7 linked regions of the Homo sapiens genome follow. The protein of the gene in region 4 interacts with the protein of the main gene of each other region in a biochemical or structural test. Each region holds a gene or a part of one and is shown on either strand. Other genes may lie near its edges.

Evidence for each region.
Region 1: the proteins of HIF1A (region 4) and FHL2 form a complex in vitro, tested with the Homo sapiens proteins (2 studies listed by BioGRID).
Region 2: the proteins of HIF1A (region 4) and RACK1 form a complex in vitro, tested with the Homo sapiens proteins (2 studies listed by BioGRID).
Region 3: of the proteins of HIF1A (region 4) and UBE2I, one has a biochemical effect on the other in vitro, tested with the Homo sapiens proteins (2 studies listed by BioGRID).
Region 5: the proteins of HIF1A (region 4) and EPO form a complex in vitro, tested with the Homo sapiens proteins (2 studies listed by BioGRID).
Region 6: the proteins of HIF1A (region 4) and MTA1 form a complex in vitro, tested with the Homo sapiens proteins (2 studies listed by BioGRID).
Region 7: of the proteins of HIF1A (region 4) and USP20, one has a biochemical effect on the other in vitro, tested with the Homo sapiens proteins (2 studies listed by BioGRID and IntAct, with this or other methods).

The regions. Positions count from the first base shown.
Region 1 is NC_000002.12:105,364,552-105,368,051, reverse strand, and holds part of FHL2 (four and a half LIM domains protein 2), read left to right. Parts: intron 1-312; coding exon 313-482; intron 483-3,500. UniProt on the Homo sapiens protein: May function as a molecular transmitter linking various signaling pathways to transcriptional regulation. Negatively regulates the transcriptional repressor E4F1 and may function in cell growth.
Region 2 is NC_000005.10:181,235,677-181,239,146, forward strand, and holds the end of RACK1 (small ribosomal subunit protein RACK1), read right to left. Parts: coding exon 3,391-3,470; intron 2,564-3,390; coding exon 2,423-2,563; intron 2,044-2,422; coding exon 1,933-2,043; intron 1,367-1,932; coding exon 1,301-1,366; 3' UTR 1,221-1,300; downstream 1-1,220. UniProt on the Homo sapiens protein: Scaffolding protein involved in the recruitment, assembly and/or regulation of a variety of signaling molecules. Interacts with a wide variety of proteins and plays a role in many cellular processes.
Region 3 is NC_000016.10:1,311,969-1,316,683, reverse strand, and holds part of UBE2I (SUMO-conjugating enzyme UBC9), read right to left. Parts: intron 4,338-4,715; exon of another isoform or gene 4,081-4,337; intron 2,665-4,080; 5' UTR 2,654-2,664; coding exon 2,588-2,653; intron 2,392-2,587; coding exon 2,308-2,391; intron 1,031-2,307; coding exon 958-1,030; intron 1-957. UniProt on the Homo sapiens protein: Accepts the ubiquitin-like proteins SUMO1, SUMO2, SUMO3, SUMO4 and SUMO1P1/SUMO5 from the UBLE1A-UBLE1B E1 complex and catalyzes their covalent attachment to other proteins with the help of an E3 ligase such as RANBP2, CBX4 and ZNF451.
Region 4 is NC_000014.9:61,701,297-61,706,011, reverse strand, and holds part of HIF1A (hypoxia-inducible factor 1-alpha), read right to left. Parts: intron 1-4,715.
Region 5 is NC_000007.14:100,719,096-100,723,267, forward strand, and holds the start of EPO (erythropoietin precursor), read left to right. Parts: upstream 1-1,372; 5' UTR 1,373-1,885; coding exon 1,886-1,898; intron 1,899-2,462; coding exon 2,463-2,608; intron 2,609-2,866; coding exon 2,867-2,953; intron 2,954-3,568; coding exon 3,569-3,748; intron 3,749-3,882; coding exon 3,883-4,038; 3' UTR 4,039-4,172. UniProt on the Homo sapiens protein: Hormone involved in the regulation of erythrocyte proliferation and differentiation and the maintenance of a physiological level of circulating erythrocyte mass.
Region 6 is NC_000014.9:105,464,124-105,468,539, forward strand, and holds part of MTA1 (metastasis-associated protein MTA1), read left to right. Parts: coding exon 1-24; intron 25-292; coding exon 293-444; intron 445-550; coding exon 551-740; intron 741-970; coding exon 971-1,060; intron 1,061-2,302; coding exon 2,303-2,455; intron 2,456-2,583; coding exon 2,584-2,619; intron 2,620-4,214; coding exon of another isoform or gene 4,215-4,226; intron 4,227-4,416. UniProt on the Homo sapiens protein: Transcriptional coregulator which can act as both a transcriptional corepressor and coactivator. Acts as a component of the histone deacetylase NuRD complex which participates in the remodeling of chromatin.
Region 7 is NC_000009.12:129,841,463-129,846,177, reverse strand, and holds part of USP20 (ubiquitin carboxyl-terminal hydrolase 20), read right to left. Parts: intron 1-4,715.

The sequences.
Region 1 (3,500 bases), on a different chromosome or scaffold from region 4:
TTGCATTGCTGAGAGAGACTTAACTTTTTTTAGATTTAACATTCCTAACCACGGTATTCAATAAATAAATGTTAAGTGCCTAAAATGTACACGTGTTGTTCTAGGAGCTGGGTGTACAGTAGTGAACCAAAAGACAAAGTCCACGCCCTGCACAAAATAGGAATTACCTCCATGTAGAGGCGAGCCTTCAAGAGCTGAAGTGGCTTGCTCTGGTCATAAAACTAGAGGGCAGCAAGCTCTGAAGGCAGATTGCTGGGACTCCACACCCCTCTAACCATAACTCTGCTGTGTTCCTCTTGACCCTGATGACAGGTACCCGCAAGATGGAGTACAAGGGCAGCAGCTGGCATGAGACCTGCTTCATCTGCCACCGCTGCCAGCAGCCAATTGGAACCAAGAGTTTCATCCCCAAAGACAATCAGAATTTCTGTGTGCCCTGCTATGAGAAACAACATGCCATGCAGTGCGTTCAGTGCAAAAAGGTATCTCAGATGCCCCCTTGGCCCTTGCACGTTCTGGCTGGTTTGCCTCCATGGTCCATGTCTGTCAGTTCTCTTTCCAAAACCAAGGATACCTGTGATACTTAAGTGGCGTGGGAGCTGTGCCTGTCCTGCCTTACATTCTGAGCATTTATCCATCGGGTCTGGGTGTCCATCCTTCTTTCAAAGACATCAACATTGTTGAGCTCTGTGATCAAATCGTTTAACCCTGCCTTCTTCTAGACCATTTCTAAATATGTTCTTATGTTGATAACCTGAGGTTAGAGGGAAGGGGAGCCACCATCCCAAAGCTGTCTTGTTCAGCTTCTCTCCATGAATAAAACAAGAAAACAACTGCAAACTTGAGAGGGAGAGAAAGATGGAAGGAAGAGGGAGGAGAGGAAGGGAGGAGAGAGAGACGGATGTGAGAAGAAAAGTAAAGGAGAAAAGTCTGCCTCCATGGATATGGGACAGATCATTTATTAAATGTATCTACTCTGGCCGGGCATGGAGGCTCATGCCTGTAATCCCAGCACTGTGGGAGGCCAAGGCTGGTGGATCACCTGTGGGAGGCCAAGGCTGGTGGATTACCTTAGGTCAGGAGTTCAAGACCAGCCTGGGCAACATGATGAAACTCCATCTCTACTAAAAATACACAACTTAGCTGGGTGTGGTGGCACACGCCTGTAGTCCCAGCTACTCAGGAGACTGAGGCAGGAGAATCACTTGAACCCGGGAGGTGGAGGTTGCAGTGAGCCAAGATCCCACCACTGCACTCCAGCCTGGGCGACTGAGCGAGACTCCATCTCAAAAAATTAAAAAAATAAATAAATAAACTTATCTACTCGATAATGTGCTATTCCAGTCATGGCTCTGTTAGGGTTAAAGAAAGAAAGGGAACTGCATATCTGTAGGAAGCCATCTCTCTGCCCAGTTGCCCCCCGACCTGCACCCTTCAGGGTGTAGCTTAGTTTTCTGCTGTGCCCTCTGACTCTTAGACACACGCAATTCTTATTATGCTATAGCTTCCAGCGTCTCTGTCCTGTTAGGATTTGCATCAGCCTGTTGAGTGGCACCCTCCCACTGCTCACTCGCCCTGGGCAGCGCCAGCTGTGGAACTCATCACAGGTTCTGTTCGCTCTCCTCCTGTTATTGACTCTGCTCACCCAGCTTCTGCTGTTTTGCCCTTGGGGCCTCTACCCTTGCGTCTGGGCCATGGAGAAACATCCCCAATGCTGCTACCTGTACCTGGCTGGCCTGGGCAAGAATATCCCCACCTTGCCCACACCTTTTCTAAGTGCTGAGTATTCTTACCAATTTCCATTCAGTCTTTCTCTCATTTCCTTTTTTTTTTTCTTTTTTTGAGACAGAATCTCACACTGTCGCCCAGGCTGGAGTGCAGTGGCTCGATCTTGGCTCACTGCAACCTCCGCCTCTTGGGTTCGAGCAATTTCTCCTGCCTCAGCCTCCCAAGTAGCTGAGATTACAGGCGTGCGTCACCATGCCCAGCCGGTTTTTTTTGTATTTTTAGTACAGACGGGGTTTCAACATGTTGGCCAGGCTGATCTCGGAACTCCTGACCTCAGGTGATCGACCTGCCTCCACCTCCCAAAGTGCTGGGATTACAGGCGTGAGCCACCATGCCTGGCCCCATTTGTTCTTTACTGTTATTTTAAATTTTATTTCTCTTTATTTCCTCTCCTTTTATGCTTCTGTTTTTTTCTTTTTTTGAGACAGTTTCACTCTGCCACCTGGGCTGTAGTACAGTGGCATGATCTCAACTCACTGCAACCTCTGCTTTCTGGGTTCAAGTGATTCTCCTGCCTCAGCCTCCTGAGCAGCTGGGATTACAGGCAGGTGCCACCACCAAACCCACCTAATTTTTTTTTTTTTTTTTTGTAGTAGAGACGGTGTCTCACTTTGTTGGCCAGACTGGTCACAAACTCCTGTTTTTTTCTTTATTCTTAGATTGAGCTCTCATTCCTGCTTTTATTTTAGGAACCCTCTTCCCTGTTCTCTCCCCTTTTTATTTTTATTTTGGTTTGTTCTTCTCATCAAGACCTAACGGAAGTTCATCTGAGTTGCTCTTCCTCTGTCATCTTTCCAATGTGTGCTTTATTCATTTGCAGAAATGAAAGCAACACATCCTTCTGGGATGCATGCTTTTTGTGTGCATGTTCATTAAATACACAAAAACATTCATGCCAGAAGCATCCATTCCTCGACATGAACTTGGCCCTCTCAGGCACTGGGGATCTGATGCTGGACAAGATGCAGACACTTAACTGTAGTCTAGGTGGAAGTACACTCCAGTGTCAAACCCGTCAGTAGTTACTGAGCAGTGTGCTATGGAGGAGAAGAGCAGAGTGTGGAATGGAGGGACCTCAACTAATCTGAGGAGTTGGGGGCCAGGGTGGTGTTGAGGGAAGGAGTCTCTGAGAAAGTCATGCTATGCTCAGAGGCATTGAGTTAGCTGATGTGGGTGGGAAGCATGGAATCCGGAGCAAGGGAGGACTGAGGACACATGTTGCAGGCAGAGATGTCTTACACACACAGGCTACTGCATTCACATGGATACGTTGCAACCAAGCGTGTTTGGTGTTCATTCTCTTGTGCAGTGGGGTGGGTTATACTAAGATGCTTCATGATTTATGGTTTAATGAAAAGAATACAAGATAGAAGGGAGTCCAGAATTCTAGTTCCTGCTTCGTCATTAACCAGCTATGAATTCTTTGGCAAGTCACTTTTTAATTTCTCTGAGTCTCAGTTTACTCATCCATAAAATTAAGATAATATCTTTCCTACTTCACAAGCTTTATGTAAAGACCAAAGGAGTTACTGCATGATACTGAAATGTTCAAAAAATAAAAAGCAAAAAAGTGTGATTGTGAGGTGCTTGCACTCCATCTTCCACAGCCTTCGTTTGCCAAGCTGAGGCCACCTACACTCCTCTCTGATAGCTTACTCAGCTCCACCAAGCACTCATTTTTAAATAGAATGTGAGATGCAACATTTGGAGAA
Region 2 (3,470 bases), on a different chromosome or scaffold from region 4:
ATCTATTTTTCTAGGAGCCTCTTGCCTTGTCACTTGCAGCTTTCGCCCTCTGCTTTGATGGCTGAGGTGAACTCATGTTCTTTGGGAAAAGGGAAGGCGTGCTGTGGAAATAAAATGTTTATTTGCTTCTCTTGTGAGGTCTGTTCCTTCAGGTGAGGGTGTAACTCAGGATTTCTTCCTTTGCCGCCCCTGCAGTGAGAAGCCACACAACTGAACTGGTTAGTTGCAGTTAAAGGCATGCTTTGCACCTGTTACCAGGCAGGCTCCTATTTCAACAGGGATGTGGACCCTGCTCCCCATTTTAATATCTTAACCTAACTTACTAACTGTTCAGTCTACTTAGAGATGTTTGCCACACGTAGTTGAAACTGAAGCCAGAAATGCCTCATCACCATTATAAATTGAGGGGAGTAGGAAGTGGAGGGTGCATGTGGGCCTTCAATATGCTGTAGTTGCTTAGCACAGAAAATTGCAAGGGTAGTGGGGTCTCAGCCGCATGTTGAACCATTCCATCCCTGTACTGAGGTTTCTATTGGAAACTGTAATTGTAGTTTAATGGCTCACTTCTGGCCTTTCACAAGGCATCTATCCTCATGAATAAACTGTGTTTGTGTGTAGGGGGATTGAGGGCCAGGTTATAGTAGCAGTTGAAATGTTTAGTAGGGCCAACTTTATGGTTCTATTTATGAATGCTTCCAGACCAACCACCCCAAAACTTTTGACCTGAGGAATAAATTAGTTTTGAATTAAGTTCTTCTGGTGAGAACTGCCTTGCTTAAAGAATTAAAAACCCTTGACTTTCCTCAAAGACCATGTTGACAGAGACTGCTAACATGAAGCTTAAGTTTTCTGAATTATGTTCAAATCTTTAGAGGAATGAGGATTCATCTTCCACTCTTACGTGTCAGGGGTTGGACCTGCGGAGTCTGCTTTTTCTAAAAATTGACTGCAACCACTTTGAAATCAGTTCTTTCCCTCAAGAAGGTTCCCCAGGTTGAAGGTAGGCCCTGATGATCTGCACGTGGTATGTAGGACGCTGATGGGGTTTAAGTTCAGGGAAACTGCTATGTGACTTCTCACAAACATCCCACCTGATGCTACCCCAATCCTGAGAACTTAGACGGACAGCTCCCCTTCAAAGCCTTGTTTACTTAGTCCATACCTTGCATCCAGTTCGCTAGTGCAAACTTAATGTGTAAGCAATGTAGATAGAATGGAGCTTTTTTGCATATAAGAAAAAAAAACCTAAAAGTCAGAAAAGCCAGTTTTTTTTTTATTTGTAAAGCTCTGCCATAAACTTCTAGCGTGTGCCAATGGTCACCTGCCACACTCGCACCAGGTTGTCCGTGTAGCCAGCAAACAGAGTCTGCAGGGAAGAAATGACAGTGACAGGTCAGGCTGGCATAAATTCTGCAGTCTCACTAGATTCAGCCCAAGTGGCTTTTTTTGAGATCCGTCCACCTTGCTCCATTGTCTAGGCTGGAGTGCAGGGGTGCGATCCTGGCTCACTACAGCCTTAAGCCCCTGCAGTTCAAGAGATCCTCCCACCTCAGCCTCCAGTAGGCATGTGCCACAACGCCGGGTAGACTGTAAGAAACCGCTCTCATTTCAACAGCCAGCTTGTAAGTGGTGGTTATGTATTCCTTGAGGAAGAAACAGCTGGTGATAAGGCTCCAGACATTTGAAAACTGGTCAGATTAATTAAGGTATTAATTGAAGGCTGACAGCCACTGCGTTCCACATCAGTCTTCCCTCTGATGCAGAAACACATTCACTGGCATGGCAAACGAGGGCATCCTCATCAACCTGGCTTGTCATTTCACTTTATGCCAAGGACACTGCTCTTGTGTCTGACAGACTAGATATACTAACAGAATGAGAGGGAGAAAATTAACTGGAAGCAGAATCACCTGAGAGGACAGACCCACTTACCTGGCCATCAGCAGACCAGGCCAGGGAGGTGCACTGGGGTGGTTCTGCCTTGCTGCTGGTACTGATAACTTCTTGCTTCAGTTCATCTACAATGATCTTTCCCTCTAAATCCTGGGGAACAGGGCAAAAGCAACCTTAAGACTTACCAATCAAGAGAGTCTCCTCTTAAAAGCCCCTCAAGATTCTCAAGTTAAAAAGGGATGATTTTGCTCCCTGGGGTCCATGTATCAATGCCTACATGCATTTTCAGTTGCCACTAGTGGAAGGATGGTTTGCTACTGACATCTAGTAGAAGCTGGAAATGCTGCTAAACATCCTGGAATGTACAGGACTGCACACCACAACAGAGTTACTCAGACCAAAATGTCATTACGTGGAGGCTGAGAAAGCTTAGCTCCCAGGTGGGAGTCAGATGGCATATATAATAACCAAAACATTGCCAGGGCTCAGAGTGCAGCCAGGTACCCAGTCAATTGTAACCCACACTCACCCAGATCTTGATGCTGGGGCCTGTGGCAGCACACAGCCAGTAGCGGTTAGGGCTGAAGCACAGGGCGTTGATGATGTCCCCACCATCTAGCGTGTAAAGGTGTTTGCCTTCGTTGAGATCCCATAACATGGCCTGGCCATCCTGGACACAGGTAAGGTAAATCAGGACACTGTGACCTCTTCCAGATGTTAATTCTGCCCATCTCAAGATTCTGTCAGAATCAATTCTTACCTTTCCTCCATTACCCCAGGCTTCTTTGAAAGCTAATGACTCAAGTACCAATATTTATCTCTGTATACCTTTCCTTTAACGTAAGACCTTACCAACCCCATCAAAAAACCCCTCCCAACTTACATAAATCACTCCAATCATTTCTGAAAACCAGGATCCCAATCTCATCAACTGCTTCAAGAAACCAACTTTAGGCTGGGTGCGGTGGCTCATGCCTGTAATCCCAGCACTTTGGGAAGCCGAGGTGGGCGGATCACCTGAGGTCAGGAGTTCAAGACCAGCCTGGCCAACATGGTAAAATCCTCTCTACTAACATACAAAAATTACCCAGGAGTGATGGCGGGTGCCTGTAATCCTAGCTACTCGGGAGGCTGAGATGGGAGAATTGCTTGAACCCGGGAGATGGTTGCAGTGAGCCGAGATCGCGCCACTGCACTCCAGCCTTGGCAGCCGAGTGAGACTCCGTCTCAAAAAAAAAACAAAAAACAAACAAACAAAAAAACAACAAAAAAAACCCACAGGCTTATAGAAAATCATCTTTTTCTTCCAGATAGTATGCCTTAACTGTCATTTGCTGAAAGTAATCTTTGGAAACATATTCTCAGATTGCCATTATCTCATTATCCTCCTAAAACCATCTTGGCTAATGTTTGCCATTTTACGTTAGAGACGCTGGCTAAGTGCTCCTTCCATGACGCTGTCTTCCACTGAGTAGGAGACGCCTTGTCCCCAAATACCTTGCCTCCAGAAGCACAGAGGGATCCATCTGGAGAGACAGTCACCGTGTTCAGATAGCCTGTGTGGCCAATGTGGTTGG
Region 3 (4,715 bases), on a different chromosome or scaffold from region 4:
AATTAAAATAAGTCATCTTAAGTAATACCTGCTCATGGTTTAAAAAAAAAATCAAACAGCAAAGGACAATCCAAAAATGAAGCAAGTCTCGACCAGCTGGTGCTGTCAGCAGTCCTCAAGCTCCTCTGGTCACTGCCACTGTGGAAAACACTTGTGTGTCTTGAGTGACAATTGCAGTGGAAGCTTTTACACAGCACTCTCGCCTCACCGTGGCCAGGCGCTGTCTAGGTGCTGGGCACGTGTTAATGCGTGGAACTCACCACAGAAAGGGCCTGCCGATTTCCAGCTATGGGACGGCAGGGACGTGGCGGCCCTCTCCTCCCTCTCCTGAGTTTTGCTGAACTGACTGAGATCACTAACTTAGCTGTAGGCTCAAAGTCGAACCTGGCCTCAGCCCTTTCTTCTCGCGCCTTCTCTGCTGCTCCCCTGCTCTATGCCTGCCCGGCTGCAGACGCAGCCCCGGGTGGGAGAGACTGCGAGAGCCCACAGGAAGAGCAGTGAGGTGGGGCAAGATAAACCCTCCAGTGAGACTCGGAGTGGTGGCGCTTCTGCACGTCCATCCCATCCAGGGCTGGGGTCTTGTGGGCACCAAATCCTGTCTTCATCGCCAACAATCACTGAGGGTCCAGGCACTCCTAGCCCAGGAGCTCCAGCCTGGATCTCACAGCCTCTCCCTGCAAAGGACTCTGGAGCTTCCCAGCCAATTAGCTGGGATGAGAGACTAAGTCTATTACGTGCACCGCCCACCCGTGGAGCTGGAAACAGACTCGCATCTGCAGCCTGAGGCGGGGATCAGGGATCAAAGCCGACCTCCAAATCTGTGATCTCACTCCCTCCCAGCTCCATGGATCGCCCGGACCAGGGCGCCACGGCCACAGCCACGGGCCTCTTTGGAGAGGACTCCAATCCCCGCAGGAACAGGCCGACTTCCAGGACACTGAACAGGGAGCTACTTACATTTTGGTGGCGAAGATGGATAATCATCTTTGAAAAGCATCCGTAGTTTAAACAAGCCTCCTTCCCACGGAGTCTGTGGGGAAATAAACCGTGGTGAGATGGGCTGCTTGCCTGCCGCAGGCCGGCCCAGGAGGAAGGGGATCGCTTCTAGGACACAACCTCCAGGACTGCGAGGACACCGGGGGCCAGAGGCCCGACAGAGGCGGCTCCCATACCAGCCTGAAGCCTGGACCAGCCCCACCAAGGGGGCGGTCAGGACCTCTGCCATGCCCAGAGAGTGAGTCGGAAAGGCCCTCCTGGAAAGGAGAGGAGGAGACGGGGGTCGGGGGCTGGGCTGGGGGGCAACGAGTGCCGCACACTGGGGCCGGCAGCGCCAAGAGCACACCCGTGCCCTCACCCCAGGGTGTTCTGCAAGCCCCTGCCCCAGGTCCCGCCTGGATGAGGCGCCTTTGCCACCCCACAACCCGACACCACTCCCGTCTTCCTTGGGGCCGCGCGCGCACCTGCCTCGCCGTAATGTGAAGGGCAAGGGACGTTCTCAGCAGAGCCTCAGACAAGTGACAAATCCAAGCCACATCCTGTCTCGGGCAAAGCTGAGTCCTGCTGGGACTGCTCAGCTCAGGGGGCCGGAGCTGCTGTGAGTTTCAGAGCGAAACCCAGAGGCTGGCATGGGCCGGAGGGAACAAGGCCTCGGGCAGGACCAACACCTCAGGGATCTCTCCTTCCTTCAGAGTCCACGAGCATGAACCTTATGTGCAAGCCGGCCTGGAGTCCCTGGCCAAGCACTTCATGTGAGCCGGGCAAAGAGGACAGGCACATGGGCCGCCCTGCTTGCCACAGACACACGGGGCCCCAAGCAGGCATCCTAGGTGGCTGCCGCCAGTCCCTGTGCCCCAGGAGGTTCTCCAGTAGACGGTTTTAGGCCGGGGTGGCTCTCCTGCAAACCCAGCTCCCGCGACCTGAGCCACACCTGGAAGGACACAGCAGAATCCCGGGTTCCAGCACGCAAAGGCTGCCCGCCCCTCAGGCCTGCTCCCAACACACATCAGAGCCCCTTCCCCTCTGCCACAGCTCAGCCCTGTGCCCGGCCAGGCCCAGCCTGCTTCCTTCTCAACCAGAAATGCCCTCGGTAGGGACACAGCTGTCACCCCAACCTTGCCAGCACCACCTTCTGAGCTCAAGTCCTCACGGGGCGGGGGCCAGGCCACAGCTGGGGATCTGAGCTGTTGACCGCGGCCTGTGACAAGGGTGGCCGTCACGGACGGCAGGGATCTGAGCGGAGTATCCCCATGGCACTGCCGCACGCATCTGCTGAGCCCCGACAGGCAGGAGGCCGGCAGCGCCCCTTACCCCTTTCTTTCCTGGAATGGCGCACTCCCAGTTCATGAGGTTCATCGTGCCATCGGGATTTTTTGTTGGGACAGCCACGAAACCCTGAGAGAAAAGAAAACAACCACAAAAGCATATCAGCGTGGCGGCATCTAGTTTGAGCAAAACCACCAAGAACCGGCCTGCGAGTCCCACCGGCCCAGCCCAGGCACGCGACCAGCTCCCTCCCAGTAGGGAGGGCGCGGTTTCAGCCGAGGGAGCCTGTCCGCGGCACTGCACACAGAAATGAAGCCCTCCTTACAAATGGGTGGTCTTTCCTCCATGCTTTCCTCTCCTGGGCGAGTCTGCTGAGGGCGATCCCCGACATGTTCAAAGTCCCTGGAACACAGGAGGCAGAGCACGGGGTCAGGAGAGGCGAGCGGGCTCCTGCCACCCCAGCACGCGCACGTGGCCCGCAGCAGGCAGGCTTGCTCCTAACATACGGTGGCCTGGCCCAGCAGGGACTCTCTTCTTGCAAGCCGTCGTCCGACCCCGGGGGTCTACCAGGGGAGGCCTTGTGAGCGGCGCCCAGATCACCGGGAGGCGGGGGCAGGTAGGACCCCTCCCCATGGCCCCAACCCAGCCCTGGTCTGCGACACATGCTGCGGCCTCTGCTCGAAGGTGAGGAGACAGATGTTCAGAGGCTGGGCCGCTGCGGCTGGGGGGTAGCTGCCACCCTGTGGTGGCTGACATGGCAGGGTCCTCACCATACCATCAGGTGGGGACTAGGCAGGGCTGGGGCCCCAGATGGATGTGGGGTGCTGGGTCCCTGCCTTAGTATCAGGCGCTCAGAACTGAGACTCAGGCTGGGCCAGGGGACACCTGTTATTCTTTTTTTTTTTTTTTTTTTTTTTTTTTGAGACAGAGTCTCATTCTATTGCTCAGGCTGGAATGCAGTGGCACGATCTCGGCTCACTGCAACCTCCGCCTCCTGAGTTCAAGCAATTCTCCTGCCTCAGCCTCCCGAGTAGCTGAGACTACAGGCGTGTGCCACCACGCCCAGCTAATTTTTGTATTTTTAGTAGAGATAGGGTTTCACCATGTTGAAGACAGAGCAGAACAAGTACCACAGGGCAGAGGCTCAGCCTCACTGAGAGAGGAGCCCTCCACGGGGACACCCTTCCCAGACCGTGCAGCCACTACCACGTCCCTGTGGCTTCAGGGGACAGACGGGTCCTGCAGGGCAGGGCAGGAGCATGGGGTAGGGGACCAGGTCCCTGATCAGAGGCAGCGGCACACACGCCAGATTCCAGCTCCACACATCTGCACGGGACCTCGGGGGCTTGGCACCTTCGCCTTTGCGTTCTCGGCGGGAGCCTGTCGGCCAGCACTGTCACTGGGGACACCAGGCAGACAGGGCCAGCAGCCTCAATGCCACCCTCAACTGTCACCCTACTGGTGGCCACCTTTACCCACGAAAAACAGCGCTCAAGATACAAAACTTGCCCAAGAATTCAAACCTAAGTGTGTGCTGGTTTTCAAAGTCCATGGGAACACTGAAGCTACTACCCCCAAGTCTGATATCTCAACACCAAACAAGAGCCACCTCTACAAAGCTGGGGGACTGAGCCAGGTCTTCTAAGCTGTGGGGGGCCGTCCCTACTACGGCTTGGGCTGTCCTAGAATAGCCACAAGGGCCCTGGGGACCTGGATGGCTCCCACACCTGTGGAGGCCCACGAACCTCACACACCTCGCAGCCGCAGAAAGGGGCCAGGTCAGCAGCTCCACCTGCGTCGGAGCCGCCGCAGCCTCACCTGGCACTCGTTAGGGAGACAAGGCCCAGTCCCCGGCAGACCCACGGACGAAGGAGCTCTGAGAGGCCCGCACTCAGGTTCTGGGTGGCACGATGACTTCCCCAGTCAGCAGAGCAGAAATCGGGGGTGGGGTTGGGATCAAAGAAGCCAAGGCAGGTCCAGTGTCGCCAGGGCACCAGGCTTCTGAAGCTGCTAGAGCCGCCTGCCCTGCAGGTGAATTTGGCTCCTTTTCACCAAACACAGATCCTCAGGGCAGCCTGAGAAAAAGCAGGCGAAGGAACCTGGGTCCTCCAGTCAGCAGGCGCTGGCGTCACAGCGAGAGGGTGACAGGGGCCAGCCGGGCACTGGCCTCCAGGTCCACGACTAAGTCCAAGACAGGCAGCCCGGGCTGGAGGCAGCCCCAGACCGGGCCCCACCGGGATGTCCTTCCCCACGCCCTCCTCACATGATGCAGAGGAGCCCGCAGGCCGCCCGCCCTCTGGACCGTTTGCCCTTCCCCGTGCCCTCCTCTAAGTGAGGGGGGGGGAGCCAGGGGCCAGACAGGGAGAAAGTGGGGGGCACAGCTATGGTCAGGCAGGGTTCGAGCCCAGAGCGGAGTGGAGCGCCCGCCAACCACGGTTTCAAGGCTGTCTCCG
Region 4 (4,715 bases):
CTTTAATAGAAGATGCATAAATAATAATAAAGTACTTACATAACAGGAAAAAACACATGTATTGAAATAAGGGTGTACAATAGAAAGCATACCCTAAAGACTTCTTCTATTAAATATTTAGCTCTAAACCTTGACCATGATTAAGATTCTGGAAATGACAAAGGAGCAGCTCTCCTAAAGCAAGAGTCTCTGTTTTCCAACTATACTAATCCATCCTATCCAATATTACCAAATAAATTTTCCAAAGTGACCTTCTGATCCTGTTTCTTTGTCTTTAAAAAGGGTTAGGTAACACTATTAGTGTGTGGCAGATCTCAGATTCCACCTGAGAATCTCCACCCTTTTCCCCATTTTAATATGAAGCCCCATTTTTAATATGGCCTATGCCTTTCCACAAATCAGATGCTCAATATATAATTTTTAAATTAAAAGATTCAAGAAATTTGGGACTATTTTTTAAGAATAGAAGGAAGAAACATGATAGCTACCCTCAGATATTTGAAAAGGATATCAAACAAAAGGCGGATTTGGTAATTTATACAACTCCAGAGAGTAATAAATAGGAATTACAACATGGCAGTGCTTTGTTTAATAGAGTTAAAGCAGTGTTGAAGTTACACTCTATGAGAATTTTTAAAACCGTGTTTTCATTTTGGTGGCATTGTAAAAAAAGAAAAGGCATATTCTACATCATCTAAATGATCTCTCCATAGTTCTGTATACTTGCCTCAAGCCTTCTGTGTTTGAGGCTGCATTTGTTTATGATCAAACTGTTACCAAATGACCACTAAAAGGAACAAGGTTACATTTTTTAATGCAGTATACATACTCAGACTGAGGTCACTGGGTACATCTCAAAAATTCAGAGGATTATTTTGCTCCAAAAGAGATCTGAACATTAATCCTGTGTTAAGAAACACAGGAATAAAAAAGAAAATAAGTAGATTGTCTTGTGAGAATGTTTTGTGTATGTATGTCTGAAAATTCTAAAAGCAGACTGGCCAATGCGCCTGTGGTGGTTGACATTAAATAACAAAACTTAAACCCAAAAGTCTGTACTTCGCAAGAACCTCAAACTTTAAAGTGCAATGAACTGAAAATTTAAAAATGGAATATGCTATGAATGAATGAATGAACATAAAAAATGGAATGTTCAACTGTGGCCTAAGCCATCAACGATTCAATGCTGTACTCAATAAATTAGCTGCACAAATACCTGTTGAATAAATGAATGCACAACAATCTGTTACAGGACATAGTATAATAGTTAGGTGCCTGAGTCATGGTTAAGCGTTGAAGAAATTTTTTGAACCACTGAAATAAGTCAACTTAAATTATTCAAGAAAATATCCCTTCATCCATTCACAGTGAAGGCTTTGACTACTGGTTTGACACTATAACCATTTAAATATTTTAACTATGTTAGCTACAAAGGCAGGCAATATCCAACTTTCCTCTGCTAACAAGTTAAAAGACATTTAATGAGATTCTGGACACAAAGGACATGGAAATGTAGGCTTTCTTAATTTCCCCCTCCTTTAACATCCCAAATAAATAGCTTTGAGAACATTTTTCTTCCTTTAGTATTACCACTATGGAAAATTATTTTAGAATAACATGTCTATACATAAACCAGTATTTAGTCTGCAAAGGCCAGATGTTTATGGAAAAAAAACCAAGTAAAGGAAAAGCATCAGTAACTATTCTGCCACTATTATTTACTCACTGGTGGTGAATAGCCTTCGTCAGATTATCACAAAGAAGGCTTGAGCGATTCTAAACAATGTTGAAAACAACTTAACCAATACTATAATATTATGAATATATGGATAGTTTCTACTTAATTAAGCCCTTACTTTGTGCCAAGAGCTGTTCTGAGTGTTTCATATGAGTTGATGTATCATTTCATTCTCATAACAATCCTATAAGGCAATTATTCTTATCATCCCAATAAAGCAATTTGTGTAAGATCACACAGTAGAGCTAAACGATCTAGAAAAATGTGTGATCTTAACACATATTTAGTAGAGAAAAGGATCATCTTTTTCTTGAGATGAAAACCCTAACCCATAGAAGAAATACTCAACTTCCCAAAAGTCATGACAAGAACAGCTTGCAGAATGACTACACTTGGTAGAAAACTATAGAATATGAATTCAAATGACTTGCAACAAAAACTCATGGCCCATTAATTACTGGTCAAGAGTTCTGTGTATAGTAAGATAATATTCTACAAGAAGACCATCAAATATGCTACAATAAGACATATTTGACTCATGTAATCAGGGAACTCCATTCACATGGCCAAGTAGGGCAAAACGTTTTCTTCTAGGAAACTGATATATAGACACTAGAAGAGAGAGGGAGTTTTTTTTACTTTTTTTTTTTTTATATTACAAACTGTATGGATGCAGGTATGGGGATGCTAGCCGTCCTCTTCCACACCATACAGACAGCCTGTCAGTGGCAGAGTAAGGCCAGCATGCAAATAGAGCAAAGGTATACAAGCCAAGTAATATCAAGACAAAAGTCAGGGATTATTACACTCTGAGATCATTTGAGACTCTAGATTTGTCTCTTAAACCAAAATTAGATTGTGTTAGCCAATGACTACATTTTCCCCTCTTAAACTAGATTGAGTTGTATTTTGCTACTTGCAATAAGAAGAATCCTAATATACTTATCAAATTGCCAGTGTTCCAAATTTAAAACTTTAATGATGATAAAGTTCAAGAAAATGACACTCTAAAATACAACTAGGTCAAACTTTCTAGAAGATAAACAGGCAATTACATTGAAAGCTTTAAAATGGATACTTTTTGACCCTGTAATTCTACTTCTTCTAATTTATTATTAAGAAAGAACCATGAGGCCGGGCATGGTGGCTCACGCCTGTAATCTCAGCACTTTTCTCACTTTTTTGAGAATAGGTTTGATAAAAAGGCAGTAATGGTAAAACAGACTATATCTGAAATCTGGAGAGTATTAAGAGCCATATATTATGTTAAGTACCCAACATTAATATTATCTAATTTAACCATCACCACAAGCCTACAAAATTCTGATACTCTTCCTCACTATTTAGATGGGAAAAAATGTAGATGTAAATTTTTTAAAAGCAGGTTAAAAACAGTACTCAGTCCCTAATCCTACAGTTATTAACATACAGATGTAACACAGAATTGAGAAATAGTAGACAATGGTCTCTACATAGTGAAAAAGCAGGTGATTTTTATTTCTTTGTGCACCTGTGTAGTTTTTAAATTTTTTCCTCCAAAATTTTAAAATTTCATTAACATTAAAATAGTTTAGCCAGATCAAATGATTGTAAACACACTCAGGGAACTCCTATTTAAATGGTATTCTATTATAAAGCAAAGAGAATAATCAATGCTCTTCTATTATAAAGCAAAGAAAATAAACCCCAACCTTACTATAAAGTAATAGAATTTAAATATCTATATCAAAAAAAGTCAAAGGAGATTCTTTAACTTTCTTCTTACCAATCAGTGAATCTCAGACAGGGAACTAAAGAATTAAAACATTCTTTTTAATTTTTTTTTTTTTTTTTTGGAGACAGCATCTCACACTGTCATCAGGCTGGAGTGCAGTGGCGCGATCTTGGCTCACTGCAACCTCTGCTTCCCAGGTTCAAGCGATTCTCCTGCCTCAGCCTCCGAGTAGCTGGGATTACAGGCATGTGCCACCACATCCTGCTATTTTTTTTTTTTTTTTTTTGTATTTTTAGTAGAGACGGGGTTTCTCCAAGTTGGTCAGGCTTGTCTTGAACTCCTGACCTCAGGTGATTCACCTGCCCCGGCCTCCCAAAATGGTGGGATTACAGGCAGGAGCCACCGTGCCGGGCCGACAATATTTCTAAAGAAACCTTTTAAAAACCTGCATTCTCTTTGTTCATCCAATTATTCAATCATTGTCTCATTTGTTAATTCAAATACTTATTAAGAGCTCACTGTGTACACCACGTACCAGTATTCACACCACAGATTTCTTTTTTAATTTTTTTGAAACACAGTCTTGCTCTGTCACCCAGGCTGGAGTGCAATGGGGCGATCTTGGCTCACCGCAACCTCCGCCTCCCAGGTTCAAGCAATTCTCCTGCCTCAGCCTCCTAAGTAGCTGGGATTACAGGCACCCGCCACCACGCCTGGCTAATTTTGGTATTTTTAGTAGAGATGGGGTTTCACCATGTTGGCCAGGCTGGTCTCGAACTCCTGACCTCAGGTGATCCACCCACCTCGGCATCCCAAAGTACTGGGATTACAAGCATGAGCCACCGCGCCCAGCCCACAAATTTCAAATTCAGCCTACTTGGGATTTGGTCCACTGAAACATATCCAGTTTTATAATGGAAAGGGGGAGGGTAGAAATCATTTTAAAGAAATTTGCTTAGCATCTGAATTTACAAGACTCTTAAGAACAGAAACGTATCCCAACCCTCAAAGACTTCAACTTTCGCCTTTAAACCTTATTTTTAACCATAGTATTTTTCAGCTGGAAAAACAAATCCTCCCAAACTACTTGGAAAAAAAAAAGGGGGAAACACGGGGGACCTGTCCTTAATGAGTGAAAATTGCAATATTAAATACTAGACACTTTTAAATTAATTTGCCTAAATATATTGTGACTTTTCAAACAAGTGAAGAACTACATACAGTAAACTATGTTCCATCACTACATTTTCCCATTTACAAGAT
Region 5 (4,172 bases), on a different chromosome or scaffold from region 4:
ATACCTCTTCCCATTGATGTCCTACCCCCCTTCAAGGCTGAGGTCATTGTCACCTCCTCCCTCAAATCTTTCTTGATTTCTCCCGGCTAACTCTTACAGCTCAGATCTACACATTCCAGTCTTTTTTTGTTTTTGAGACAGGCTCTCACTCTGTCGCCCAGGCTGCAGTGCAGTGGCACGATCATGGCTCACTACGGCCTCGAACTCCTGGGCTCAGGTGATCCTCCTGCCTTAGCCTCCTGCATATTTGGGACTACAGGCGTGAGCCACCACACCTGACTAATTATTTTTTATTTATTTATTTATTTTAGAGACAAGGTCTTGCCATGTTGTCCGGGCTGGTCTCGAACTCCTGGGCTCAAAGGATCTTCCTGCCTTGGTCTCCCAAAGTGCTGGGATTATAGGTGTCAGCTGCGGCGCCTGGACCTTTCCTGTCTTTTATGAAACCTGAATGGGATAGGCTGGTAGTTTCACCACACCCATTTGACAGATGAGGACATTGAGGGCTCAAGGACGAGGCCACTTTCTAAGGTGTGAGAGACCAGCTAGTCTTGGTCTCCTGCTCTGGGAATCTCACTCCTCTGGCTCAGGGTTTCCAGAAGCCATAAAACCTTAGCTGTAAATCCCAGCCCCCATCACTCTTGGTGTTAGCTGTATTTCAGTGTTCTTAAGAACTCAGCAATGCAGCCTAGCTAACCTACACCACAGGTCAAATAAACAGATGTCAAGGTGCATGTGTGTCCTGCACAATGGACTGTGTGCTCTGTGCACTAAAAGTTAAGTGTCTGGGGTGGGGGCTGGGTGCGGTGGCTCACGCCTGCAATCCCAGCACTTTGAGAGGCCGAGGAGGGTGGATCACCTGAGGTCAGGAGTTCAAGACCGGTATGGGCAATATGGCAACACCCCATCTCTACTAAAAATACAAAACATAGCCGGGTGTAAAGGTGTGCCTGTAGTCCCAGCTGCTCCAGAGGCTGAAGCAGGAGAATTGCTTGAACCCAGGAGGCAGAGGTTGTAGTGAACGGGAGATGGCACCACTGCACTGCCTGGGCAACATAGGGAGGCTACATCTCCAGAAAAAAAAAAAAAAGTTAAGTGTCTGGGTTTGCAGAGTACTAGACGGTGAGGAGTGAGGTGGGGAGGAAGAACCCCAAATTTCTTGCCCTATTTGCCCCCATCAAATTCCTCAACATGGTCAACATTGTTTCTAGAACATGTCCTGGGATTGTGGGAAGGGAGACCACTCATTTGCCCCTCCCTAAAGCTTCTGGGCTTCCAGACCCAGCTACTTTGCGGAACTCAGCAACCCAGGCATCTCTGAGTCTCCGCCCAAGACCGGGATGCCCCCCAGGGGAGGTGTCCGGGAGCCCAGCCTTTCCCAGATAGCACGCTCCGCCAGTCCCAAGGGTGCGCAACCGGCTGCACTCCCCTCCCGCGACCCAGGGCCCGGGAGCAGCCCCCATGACCCACACGCACGTCTGCAGCAGCCCCGCTCACGCCCCGGCGAGCCTCAACCCAGGCGTCCTGCCCCTGCTCTGACCCCGGGTGGCCCCTACCCCTGGCGACCCCTCACGCACACAGCCTCTCCCCCACCCCCACCCGCGCACGCACACATGCAGATAACAGCCCCGACCCCCGGCCAGAGCCGCAGAGTCCCTGGGCCACCCCGGCCGCTCGCTGCGCTGCGCCGCACCGCGCTGTCCTCCCGGAGCCGGACCGGGGCCACCGCGCCCGCTCTGCTCCGACACCGCGCCCCCTGGACAGCCGCCCTCTCCTCCAGGCCCGTGGGGCTGGCCCTGCACCGCCGAGCTTCCCGGGATGAGGGCCCCCGGTGTGGTCACCCGGCGCGCCCCAGGTCGCTGAGGGACCCCGGCCAGGCGCGGAGATGGGGGTGCACGGTGAGTACTCGCGGGCTGGGCGCTCCCGCCCGCCCGGGTCCCTGTTTGAGCGGGGATTTAGCGCCCCGGCTATTGGCCAGGAGGTGGCTGGGTTCAAGGACCGGCGACTTGTCAAGGACCCCGGAAGGGGGAGGGGGGTGGGGCAGCCTCCACGTGCCAGCGGGGACTTGGGGGAGTCCTTGGGGATGGCAAAAACCTGACCTGTGAAGGGGACACAGTTTGGGGGTTGAGGGGAAGAAGGTTTGGGGGTTCTGCTGTGCCAGTGGAGAGGAAGCTGATAAGCTGATAACCTGGGCGCTGGAGCCACCACTTATCTGCCAGAGGGGAAGCCTCTGTCACACCAGGATTGAAGTTTGGCCGGAGAAGTGGATGCTGGTAGCTGGGGGTGGGGTGTGCACACGGCAGCAGGATTGAATGAAGGCCAGGGAGGCAGCACCTGAGTGCTTGCATGGTTGGGGACAGGAAGGACGAGCTGGGGCAGAGACGTGGGGATGAAGGAAGCTGTCCTTCCACAGCCACCCTTCTCCCTCCCCGCCTGACTCTCAGCCTGGCTATCTGTTCTAGAATGTCCTGCCTGGCTGTGGCTTCTCCTGTCCCTGCTGTCGCTCCCTCTGGGCCTCCCAGTCCTGGGCGCCCCACCACGCCTCATCTGTGACAGCCGAGTCCTGGAGAGGTACCTCTTGGAGGCCAAGGAGGCCGAGAATATCACGGTGAGACCCCTTCCCCAGCACATTCCACAGAACTCACGCTCAGGGCTTCAGGGAACTCCTCCCAGATCCAGGAACCTGGCACTTGGTTTGGGGTGGAGTTGGGAAGCTAGACACTGCCCCCCTACATAAGAATAAGTCTGGTGGCCCCAAACCATACCTGGAAACTAGGCAAGGAGCAAAGCCAGCAGATCCTACGGCCTGTGGGCCAGGGCCAGAGCCTTCAGGGACCCTTGACTCCCCGGGCTGTGTGCATTTCAGACGGGCTGTGCTGAACACTGCAGCTTGAATGAGAATATCACTGTCCCAGACACCAAAGTTAATTTCTATGCCTGGAAGAGGATGGAGGTGAGTTCCTTTTTTTTTTTTTTTCCTTTCTTTTGGAGAATCTCATTTGCGAGCCTGATTTTGGATGAAAGGGAGAATGATCGAGGGAAAGGTAAAATGGAGCAGCAGAGATGAGGCTGCCTGGGCGCAGAGGCTCACGTCTATAATCCCAGGCTGAGATGGCCGAGATGGGAGAATTGCTTGAGCCCTGGAGTTTCAGACCAACCTAGGCAGCATAGTGAGATCCCCCATCTCTACAAACATTTAAAAAAATTAGTCAGGTGAGGTGGTGCATGGTGGTAGTCCCAGATATTTGGAAGGCTGAGGCGGGAGGATCGCTTGAGCCCAGGAATTTGAGGCTGCAGTGAGCTGTGATCACACCACTGCACTCCAGCCTCAGTGACAGAGTGAGGCCCTGTCTCAAAAAAGAAAAGAAAAAAGAAAAATAATGAGGGCTGTATGGAATACATTCATTATTCATTCACTCACTCACTCACTCACTCATTCATTCATTCATTCATTCAACAAGTCTTATTGCATACCTTCTGTTTGCTCAGCTTGGTGCTTGGGGCTGCTGAGGGGCAGGAGGGAGAGGGTGACATGGGTCAGCTGACTCCCAGAGTCCACTCCCTGTAGGTCGGGCAGCAGGCCGTAGAAGTCTGGCAGGGCCTGGCCCTGCTGTCGGAAGCTGTCCTGCGGGGCCAGGCCCTGTTGGTCAACTCTTCCCAGCCGTGGGAGCCCCTGCAGCTGCATGTGGATAAAGCCGTCAGTGGCCTTCGCAGCCTCACCACTCTGCTTCGGGCTCTGGGAGCCCAGGTGAGTAGGAGCGGACACTTCTGCTTGCCCTTTCTGTAAGAAGGGGAGAAGGGTCTTGCTAAGGAGTACAGGAACTGTCCGTATTCCTTCCCTTTCTGTGGCACTGCAGCGACCTCCTGTTTTCTCCTTGGCAGAAGGAAGCCATCTCCCCTCCAGATGCGGCCTCAGCTGCTCCACTCCGAACAATCACTGCTGACACTTTCCGCAAACTCTTCCGAGTCTACTCCAATTTCCTCCGGGGAAAGCTGAAGCTGTACACAGGGGAGGCCTGCAGGACAGGGGACAGATGACCAGGTGTGTCCACCTGGGCATATCCACCACCTCCCTCACCAACATTGCTTGTGCCACACCCTCCCCCGCCACTCCTGAACCCCGTCGAGGGGCTCTCAGCTCAGCGCCAGCCTGTCCCATGGACACTCCAGTG
Region 6 (4,416 bases), about 44 Mb from region 4:
GCCGGGCCTGCGAGAGCTGTTACAGTAAGTGCCCTGGATGGCCGGGGGCACACCGCACGCCCGCCTGTGGGCCGTGGTGCCTGCGTTGGCCCTGAGGGCTCCAGCATGGCCCAGCCTGCAAGGGGCCCACTGACGATGGGGGCTGCGTCCCAGGGGTGTGGTTGGGAGAGCCTCGGGGAACGTGTGGGGGTGCCTGGCGGGTGGGGGCGGCCGGCGTGGGGGTGGCGGGGAATACTCTGACATCGCTGGTTCTGCTTAAGAATCCGTCTATTTCCAACTTTGTTGTCCGTAGCCACACAGTCTTACCAGTGGTATTCTTGGGGTCCCCCTAACATGCAGTGTCGTCTCTGCGCATCTTGTTGGACATATTGGAAGAAATATGGTGGCTTGAAAATGCCAACCCGGTTAGATGGAGAGAGGCCAGGACCAAACCGCAGTAACATGGTAAGGGGGGGGACACCCGCCCTGCCTGCCATGAGCCTGTCGGCCACGCGGGTCCTCGGCCCCCGGTCATGGCGCTGTGTTGGGGCGGTTGCGCCCCCTTCCGCAGAGTCCCCACGGCCTCCCAGCCCGGAGCAGCGGGAGCCCCAAGTTTGCCATGAAGACCAGGCAGGCTTTCTATCTGCACACGACGAAGCTGACGCGGATCGCCCGGCGCCTGTGCCGTGAGATCCTGCGCCCGTGGCACGCTGCGCGGCACCCCTACCTGCCCATCAACAGCGCGGCCATCAAGGCCGAGTGTGAGTCACCCCAACGCCCCGCTTACTCTGTTCCTGCGGGTGGTGGGGAGAGAGCAGCAACCTTGGGGCCCAGCCTGTAGCCCCACTGGGAGTTCTGATCTCAGGGAGCCCCACGTCCTCCTCGGTGCTGACATGGCCGAGCCCAGTGAGGGCTCCCAGGTCAAGGCGCAGGCAGGGTCCCGTGCTCCCCTGGGGGTGCCCCACCCCTCACACCGTGTGGTACCCCGCAGGCACGGCGCGGCTGCCCGAAGCCTCCCAGAGCCCGCTGGTGCTGAAGCAGGCGGTACGCAAGCCGCTGGAAGCCGTGCTTCGGTATCTTGGTGAGCAGCCAGGCGTGCTGGGGGGCTCCCAATGCTGCCTGCAGGCAGCTTCTCACCCAAGCTCATGCACTGGTGCTCCCAGCCTTCTCTAGCTGGGAGCTCCTGGACAGCCCCCCAGGGCCTGGAACTGTCCTTTTGGGGTACTCTGCACCGTGCCAGGCTCAGGCAGACCCACTGGGACCCAGGCTGCTCCCTGCTCCTGGGGTCGTGATGGGGCCCAGTGCGGAGTAGCGGCCGCCCTGTCTTCTGCGGGGCCAGCCTCCTCAAGGCACACCCGGGGGCTTCCCTGCCAGTCTCGCTACCCTGTTCCCTGTGTTCTGATCGTCCCTGGGGCCTGAGGGTCTGGGGTTTAGGTGGTGCACACCCCTGCCTGTAATACCATTAAGGCAGCGTCGTACCTGCTGCCTGCAGGGAGTATACTTCCTGAGCCACGCCCACTCCACAGGGGCAGCACTCAGGCCTCTGCACGCCCTCGGCAGGGGGAGGAGCAGCCTCAGGCGGCAGGGGGTTCCTTTGCCTTTGAGCATCTGAGGACACCCGAGAACCTCAGCCGGCTACCCTGGCCCAGCTGGAAGCAGCTTGGTGGCTGGGCCAGACATTTGTGGTGGCGGTGGGGGGCCTCCTCCATTTGCTGGGCTCGAGTGGGCTTGTGCATCTGCCCTCCCGACACAGGGTGACTGTCCTGAGAAGGACATTCCAGAGTCATGAGCCAAGTGTGCTCTGAGATTCAAGTGGCTTTGGCATTGCTCCCTGTTTGGGGTTGTGGCCCCTGTCCTGTGGGAAGAGGTGGCTGGTGTCAGGGCTGGTCCTCAGCAGCTGTGTCCCTGGCCAGGCTGGCTGGATGGTTGGTTCGCTGTCTGACGAGCAGCCAGCCCTCCACCAGCAGCTCCGGGGGCCTGGACGTGGGGGCTGTTTAATAGGCGTGCTGTGCTCACGGGCCTGTGTATGGATCCTGTTGTCCCGGGGCTGAGGGGCCTGGCCCCCGCCAGGTGGTCTCCCTGCTCTCTGGAAGCCCTGGGGTGCGGGACTGGCCCGGGCACACGCCTTGCCGAGGGCTTCTGGGCTTCTGGTTCTGTGGTGACCTCCCCACTTCCAGCCCAGTCAGGATGGGGCCTCGGGTGGGGGCCGCATGGGGCTTAGTTCCTGGGGGTATCCCGGAACCATGAGGGCTGGAGCCTGGGCCTGCCTGCCCCTCCCCTGCTGGGCAGAGGCAACTCGTTCTGCCTGTGTCATTCCCGGCAGAGACCCACCCCCGCCCCCCCAAGCCTGACCCCGTGAAAAGCGTGTCCAGCGTGCTCAGCAGCCTGACGCCCGCCAAGGTGGCCCCCGTCATCAACAACGGCTCCCCCACCATCCTGGGCAAGCGCAGCTACGAGCAGCACAACGGGGTGGACGGTGAGTGGCCCCCCCGCCCGGTGAGTGTGGCCCTCCCCGCCCGGTGAGTCCGGCCCGTCCCCGCCCGGGCACCCGCCGTGCGTGCTGACGCTGTCTTCTCTCCCTCTCTCCCACCCCGGCGCTGCCAGGCAACATGAAGAAGCGCCTCTTGATGCCCAGTAGGGGTAAGGCCTGGAGCCGCGGGCGGGCGCTGCGCCGGCCCCGCCCGTGATGCCTGTGCTGTGCTGCTCTGTGTCCCCGCGGCGGGCGGCCCAGGGCCCATGCTTGGGGCAGTCCACGTGAGCCAGGCCACAGCCCAGTTCCCCACATTCCTCCCGACATCACTGGTCCCTTGGTGAAGACCCCCCGAGCCCAGGCATCTGGCCCTCGGCCCCCTGGCCCCGCCTCCTGTCAGTGGACTGTCCTGGCACGTGTGGCCCTGGCGCCCCTGCCTGCGCTGTCTGCCATCGCGCTGTGACTGCCCGCATGCTGCCAGCCTCAGCTCGTGGGGCCGCCCGTGCTGTGCCTGCAATCCTTCCGTGCGCCTGCCAGGCGGGACAGTGGGGAGGGTGGTCGGGGGTGTCTGTGTGGGCCGTGGGCAACTGAGCTTGTACACATGGGTGCCTTCTGTCGGAGGACTGGCTCAGGTGCTCTGTGCCGGTTGCTTGGAGCAGGGGCTGCGGGACCCCAGGCCCCTTGGGGAAGAGCAGATAGGACCAAGCCTAGCATGAGGAGGCCAGGTGTGTGGGGCCCGGGTGTGCAAGTGCTGGGCCTGCCAGTGTGGATGTGCCTGGAGCCCCTTCGCCAGGCGGCTTTCACTGACGGTGCTGGCCAGGGCAGCAGGGCCGGTTTGGCGACCTGGAGGTGGATATGGGTAGTGGCTGCCCAGCCCAGCCAACCCTGTCCCCTTGGGGCATTCTCTCGAGGCTGCTGGGTGTCCTGGCAGGCACGTCCTGTGGGGTCAGCACGCCGGCTGCAGCGCAGGGTGGGCCTGAGATCGGGTGCCGGGCCCCCCATCTCCACCTGTCTGGACACGCACCCCTGGCCTGTCCTTGCAGCTTCCTCCCGACATCCCTTGGCGGTGTCTGTGTCTCGGCCCCAGCCCCAGCCCTCCTTTCCTGGGGCACCCTCCCAGCCATCTGGTATTGGGGCTGCCCCCATTGCCTAGTCCTGGGCCCAGGGCCAGCCCACTCTGGGCTGGCTTTACTTGTCTGTTCCTAATGGCAGGGCGTCCCAGGAACAGCCCCATAAGAGCTGGTAGAAACAGGAGGGAGTCCTTGTCAGCAGGCATCTTCGAGCTTTTTGTTTTGTTTTGTAAAAAGCGGTTAACCAGCAAGTTACATAAAAGCTTATTTGTTCCCACTGAATTTTCCACACCTCACACGTGAGTCCCAGCCATGCAGTGCTTGTGAGGGAGCATCACCCCTTGCCGCCTGGCTGGGCGGGGCCCTGGGCTCAGAGGGGTCAGCCACAGAGGAAGCGCCTGTCCTGACGTGTAGCGGCCAGGACCTGGGCGCTGGAGAGGGGCCAGCTGGGTGAAGACGGCTCCCGGGGGCACTGGCGCACACGAGGTGGGGTCTCTGTCCAGCCTGGGTAGGCATGAGCTGAGCTCGAGTGAGGGCCCTGCCTGCCCACAGCACGGGGCCCCAGCGCTCTAACCCGGCCATTTGCCCGTGCAGCCTGTTGCGCTGTCCCCACCTGCGGGGCCTGCAGATGGCTGCGTGTGGCTCACTAACCTAAAGCATGTGTTTCTTCCCTCTGCTGTCCACCGCTCTGGTAGGCACTTACCTGGGTAAGTAGTTTTTGTGCTACTGGCCAGCCCTGGGCGCTGGGCCTTGGCTTGTGGCAGGTGCCCTGAGGTATGGCTGTTCCTGCTTGGGAGCGCCGCAGATCAGGCACCTGGGCCCCCACCTGACCCTGCCCGGCAGAGCTAAGCAAACTGGCAGGGAAAGGCTGACCCAGGGCTCCAGGGCCCCAGTTGG
Region 7 (4,715 bases), on a different chromosome or scaffold from region 4:
GCGGGAGGACCATGAGGTCAGGAGATCAAGATCATCCTGGCTAACATGGTGAGACCCCGTCTCTACTAAAAGAAAATACAAAAAAATTGGCTGGGTGTGGTGGCGGACGCCTGTAGTCCCAGCTACTCGGGAGGCTGAGGCAGGAGAAAGGCATGAACCCAGGAGGCTGAGCTTGCAGTGAGCCGAGATCGCACCACTGCGCTCCAGCCTGGGCGACAGAGCGAGACTCTGTCTCAAAAAAAACAAAACACAAAACAAAACAAAAAAAACCTATTATTACAGTAAACTCTTATTTTGGTGAAATAATGTGTTTTAGGCCTAGAGAAAGGATGCTATCATCTTTTCTGGAGGATAGAGTCAAGTGATTTTTATTTCCTTTTTGCTTTTCTGCATTTTCTACAATGAACTTGTGTTGCCTTTTTTTTCTTCCTATACTTGCTTCCTGAATGACTGTGTTATAATCATTCTAATCTAATAATCTAATAAGGTCAGTCACAGTGGCTCACGCCTGTAATCCTAGTGCTTTTGGGAAGCTGAGGAGGGAGGATCCCTTAAGCTCAAGGCTGCAGTGAACTAGGATTGTGCCACTGCACTACAGCCTGGGCAACAGAGCAAGAACCCATCTCTAAAACAAAACCAAAATCAAAAAACAACAAAAAATGCTTTTCCTCTCAGAAGTCCCCTCTCTCACTAGAGAGAGAGCTGTTTTCCTTTCTTTCTTTTTCTTTTGCCTGTTAAACCTCTGCTCCTAAAAACAAAAACAAACCAAAAAAAATACCTAAATCGGTTACTGTTAATGGTTTTTCAAGTTTCCAAAATAAGAAAATAAGAAGAGTGTGCATCTGGCTTCCTAGGTATGTTGCTCTTCCCCAAACTCCTGAGGGCACCATAGGGGACAGAGCCTCTGTTCCCTGGAGCTCTCCAGGCCCCTGTGCCAGGCACTGCCCTGAGCCTACACAGGGTGGTTTTCAGAGAAGGGGTGGGAGCATCTGAGTGGTCCCAGAAGTCCCCAAAGCTGCTACCTGGATGGCTCCTAAGCACACTTCTCCAGGTGACTCACAGGGGCCAAGAAGTGCCCTCAACATGTGTTTTTTGTATTTTTATCTATTTATTTATTTAGAGACCAGGTTATGAGACTGGCTAATTTTTGTATTTTTGGTAGAGACAGGGTTTTGCCGTGTTGCCCAAGCTGGTCTTGAACTCCTGGGCTTAAGTGATCTGCCCACCTCCACCTCCCAAAGTGCTGGGATTACACACATGAGCCACCATGACCGGCCCTCTCAATATTCATTTTTGCCTCATTTACCTCCATGTTGTATTCAAATTTTTCATCTTCTCCTACTTGTCCTGAAAATTTTAAAGGCATTTTTGTCTGGTTTTCATAAATTTGATATATACCTTCATAGAAGCTGGAAACAGACACAGACATAAAATGAAATAAAAATCACCTGTAATCCTGCTGTACAGGAAAAAAAATATGGTTACCTTTTTGGTTTTGGTAAGTCTTATTTACATGTACGAATATATAATTTTTTTTTTTTTTTTTTTTTTTTTGAGACAGAGTCGCGCTCTGTCACCCAGGCTGGAGTGCAGTGGTGCGATCTCGACTGAACACACTCTCCACTTCAGGTTCAAGCCATCCTACCACCTCAGCCTCCCGAGTAGCTGGGATTACAGGCACACACTCCCACGCCTGGCTAATTTTTGTATTTTTTGTAGATATGGGGTTTCGTCATGTTGCCCAAGCTGGTCTCAAACTCCAGAGCTCAACCAATCCATCTGCCTGGGCCTCCCAAAGTGCTGGGATTACAGGCGTGAGCCACCATGCCCAACCAGATATATAAATTTTAAAAATAAACTGCAATATAACCAATAAATTTGTATACAGCTTTTTTTGGTTTATATATTTCTAATGTCACTAAATTTCTTTTCAGCTTCATTTCTAATAGGTGAATAATATTATACCACATATAATTTAAGCTATACAACCCCTTACTGAATTATTTATCCATCATAGGACGTGGTATTTTTGTATTTTGTGTATGTGTGTTTTGCCATTATAAAGAAGGCACTGAGAAACATTTTGGAATATGAATCTTTTGTTTTGCTTAAAGACAAGTCTCAATCTGTCACCCAGGCTGGAGTGCAATGGTGTGATCATGGTTCACTGCAGCCTCTACCTCCCTGGGCTCAGGTGATCCTCCTACCTCAGCCCCCCAAGTAGCTAGGACTACAGGCATGCACTACCAAGCCTGGCTACTTTTTAATTTTTCTTTTATAGAGACAGAGTTTTGCCATGATGCCCAGATTGGTCTGGAACTCCTGGGTTCAAGCAATCTGCCTGCCTTGGACTCCCAAAGTACTGGAACTACAGGTGTGAGCCACCAGGAATGTGAAACTTTGACTAAATCTTTTTGTTTTGTTTTGTTTTGTTTTTTTGAGATGGAGTTTTCACTCTTGTTACCCAGGCTGGAGTGCAGTGGTGTGATCTCGGCTCACTGCAACCTCCACCTCCTGGGTTCAAGCAATTCTGCTGCCTCAGCCTCCCAAGTAGCTGGGATTACAAGCACACACCACCACGCCCAGCTAATCTTTTTGGATTTTTAGTAGAGATGAGGTTTCACCACATTGGTCAGGCTGGTCTTGAACTCCTGATCTCAGGTGATCCGCCTGCCTCAGCTTCTCAAGTGCTGGGATTACAGGCGTGAGTCACTGCGACCAGACTGTCTTTTTGTTGTTGTCGTGGTTGAGACAGAGTCTTAGTCTGTTGCCTAGGCTGGACTGCAGTGGCGTGATCTCTGCTCACTGCAACCTCCGCCTCCTGGGTTCAAGCGTTTCTCTTGCCTCAGCCTCTAGAGTAGCTGGGATTACAGGAATCCACCATCACACCCACATAATTTTTGTATTTTTAGTAGAGACGAGGTTTCACCACGTTGGCCAGGGTGGTCTCGAACTCCTGACCTCAAGTGATCTGTCCACTGCGGCCTCCCAAAGTGCTGGGAGTACAGGTGTACGCCACCATGCCCGGCCTACATCTTTGACCAAAAAAAAAAAAAAAAATTATTGGTCAAAATGTGTGCTTTGAAGGCTCTACATAGATATTGATAAGCTTCCCTTTAGAAACAGTATATACATTTATCTGCCTATCAGCAGTATATGAGTATGTGCAACATAAAAAGTTTAAGGTTTACTAACATTTTAAAAATTAATGGTTAAAAATCATTTCTATGAAGGAAAAAGGGCGGTAGTACAGAAAACACTGGGTGCTTAATATTCCACACAAAGGGCCAGGTGCGGTGGCTCACAGCTGTAATCCCAGCACTTTGGGAGGCTAAGGAGGGTGGATCACAAGGTCAGGAGTTCGAAACCAGCCTGACCAACATGGTGAAATCCCATCTCTACTAAAAATACAAAAAATTAGCCAGGTGTGGTGGCACATGCCTGTAAGCCCAGCTACTCAGGAGGCTGAGGCAGGAGAATCGCTTGAACCCAGGAGGCAGAGGTTGCAGTGAGCCGAGATCACGCCATTGCACTCCAGCCTGGGCAACAGAGTAAGACTCCGTCTAAAAAAAAAAAAAAAAACTTCCACACACAGGACCTAAAATATCGGAAGCATGGGGGTCGACAAGAGGGTGCATATCTCAGCTGTCTGAAAGTTATCATTTTGCTTCCTTTTGGTACCCAACCAACACTGACCATGTACCTCCTTAGGAACAGTGACTTGGGGTGCTGGGAAACAGCCAGGCATAGGCCCTGCTCTTGTAGTGTACAGAGTCCCATACTTCAACCTCAGGGTACTTGCAAGCAGACACTAGGGAGGTGATAATCACCACCAGCACCTCTGTTTCCTACACTCACTGAGGGTTAGCTGCTGCACATACATTATCCCGGGAGGTAACGGTCACTATGGAAGGAAATTACAGGGACAAGTAGCCCTGGGTTCAGTACCTCACTCTGCCCCTTGCAAGTCTGTGACTTTAGATAAATCGCTCAGTCTCCACATTCATAAAATGGGGACAATGACAGCACCTAGGGTTACTGAGAAGATGAAGTGAGCCAATGCACAGTAAACGCTAAGTTGAATGACTTAGGGCCTCATGGACTTTCTGGGTGGCTCAGATTTTTTATTGATTTGCATGACAAGAATGCTCAAAAAATGTTTACTACTATAATTTGTGTCACTGGCTGTTCTATACATTAGGACACTGAAATTGGTAGGAATAGAAGTCACATGCTCAAGGTCACTCAGAAGGGCACCCTCCATGAGACCACTCAGGGCTCTGCAGGCCAACCAGCCCAGCAACGAACAGGCGCCATGGTGATGGAGTCAGACACACCGCAGGGGACTCATGCACGGATTCTTGGTGCGCTTCCTGAGATCTAAGCTCACCTCCTGGTGCTTTTGACATCAAAGAAAAAGCCAGGAAAGGCAACTTCATGGACTAGAGCAAACCCTTCAACAGCTTCCCTGTCCTGGGGCAGCCTGCGCTTCTGAACCCCCATTCCTGCTGAGCACCTTTGCTTCCCTGCAACGTGAAGGTTCCCTTTCTCCACCAAGGCTGAGAAACTGTTCCAGGCAAGACACTGAGGAGACATAACAAAGCTGGATTGTGGGTCAATGTGGGGGGATGCCACAAAGAACATCCCCAGGACAACCAGCATGCCTGAGTGTGGACTGCCTGTTAGATCATAGTATTTGTTATGGACTGAATTGT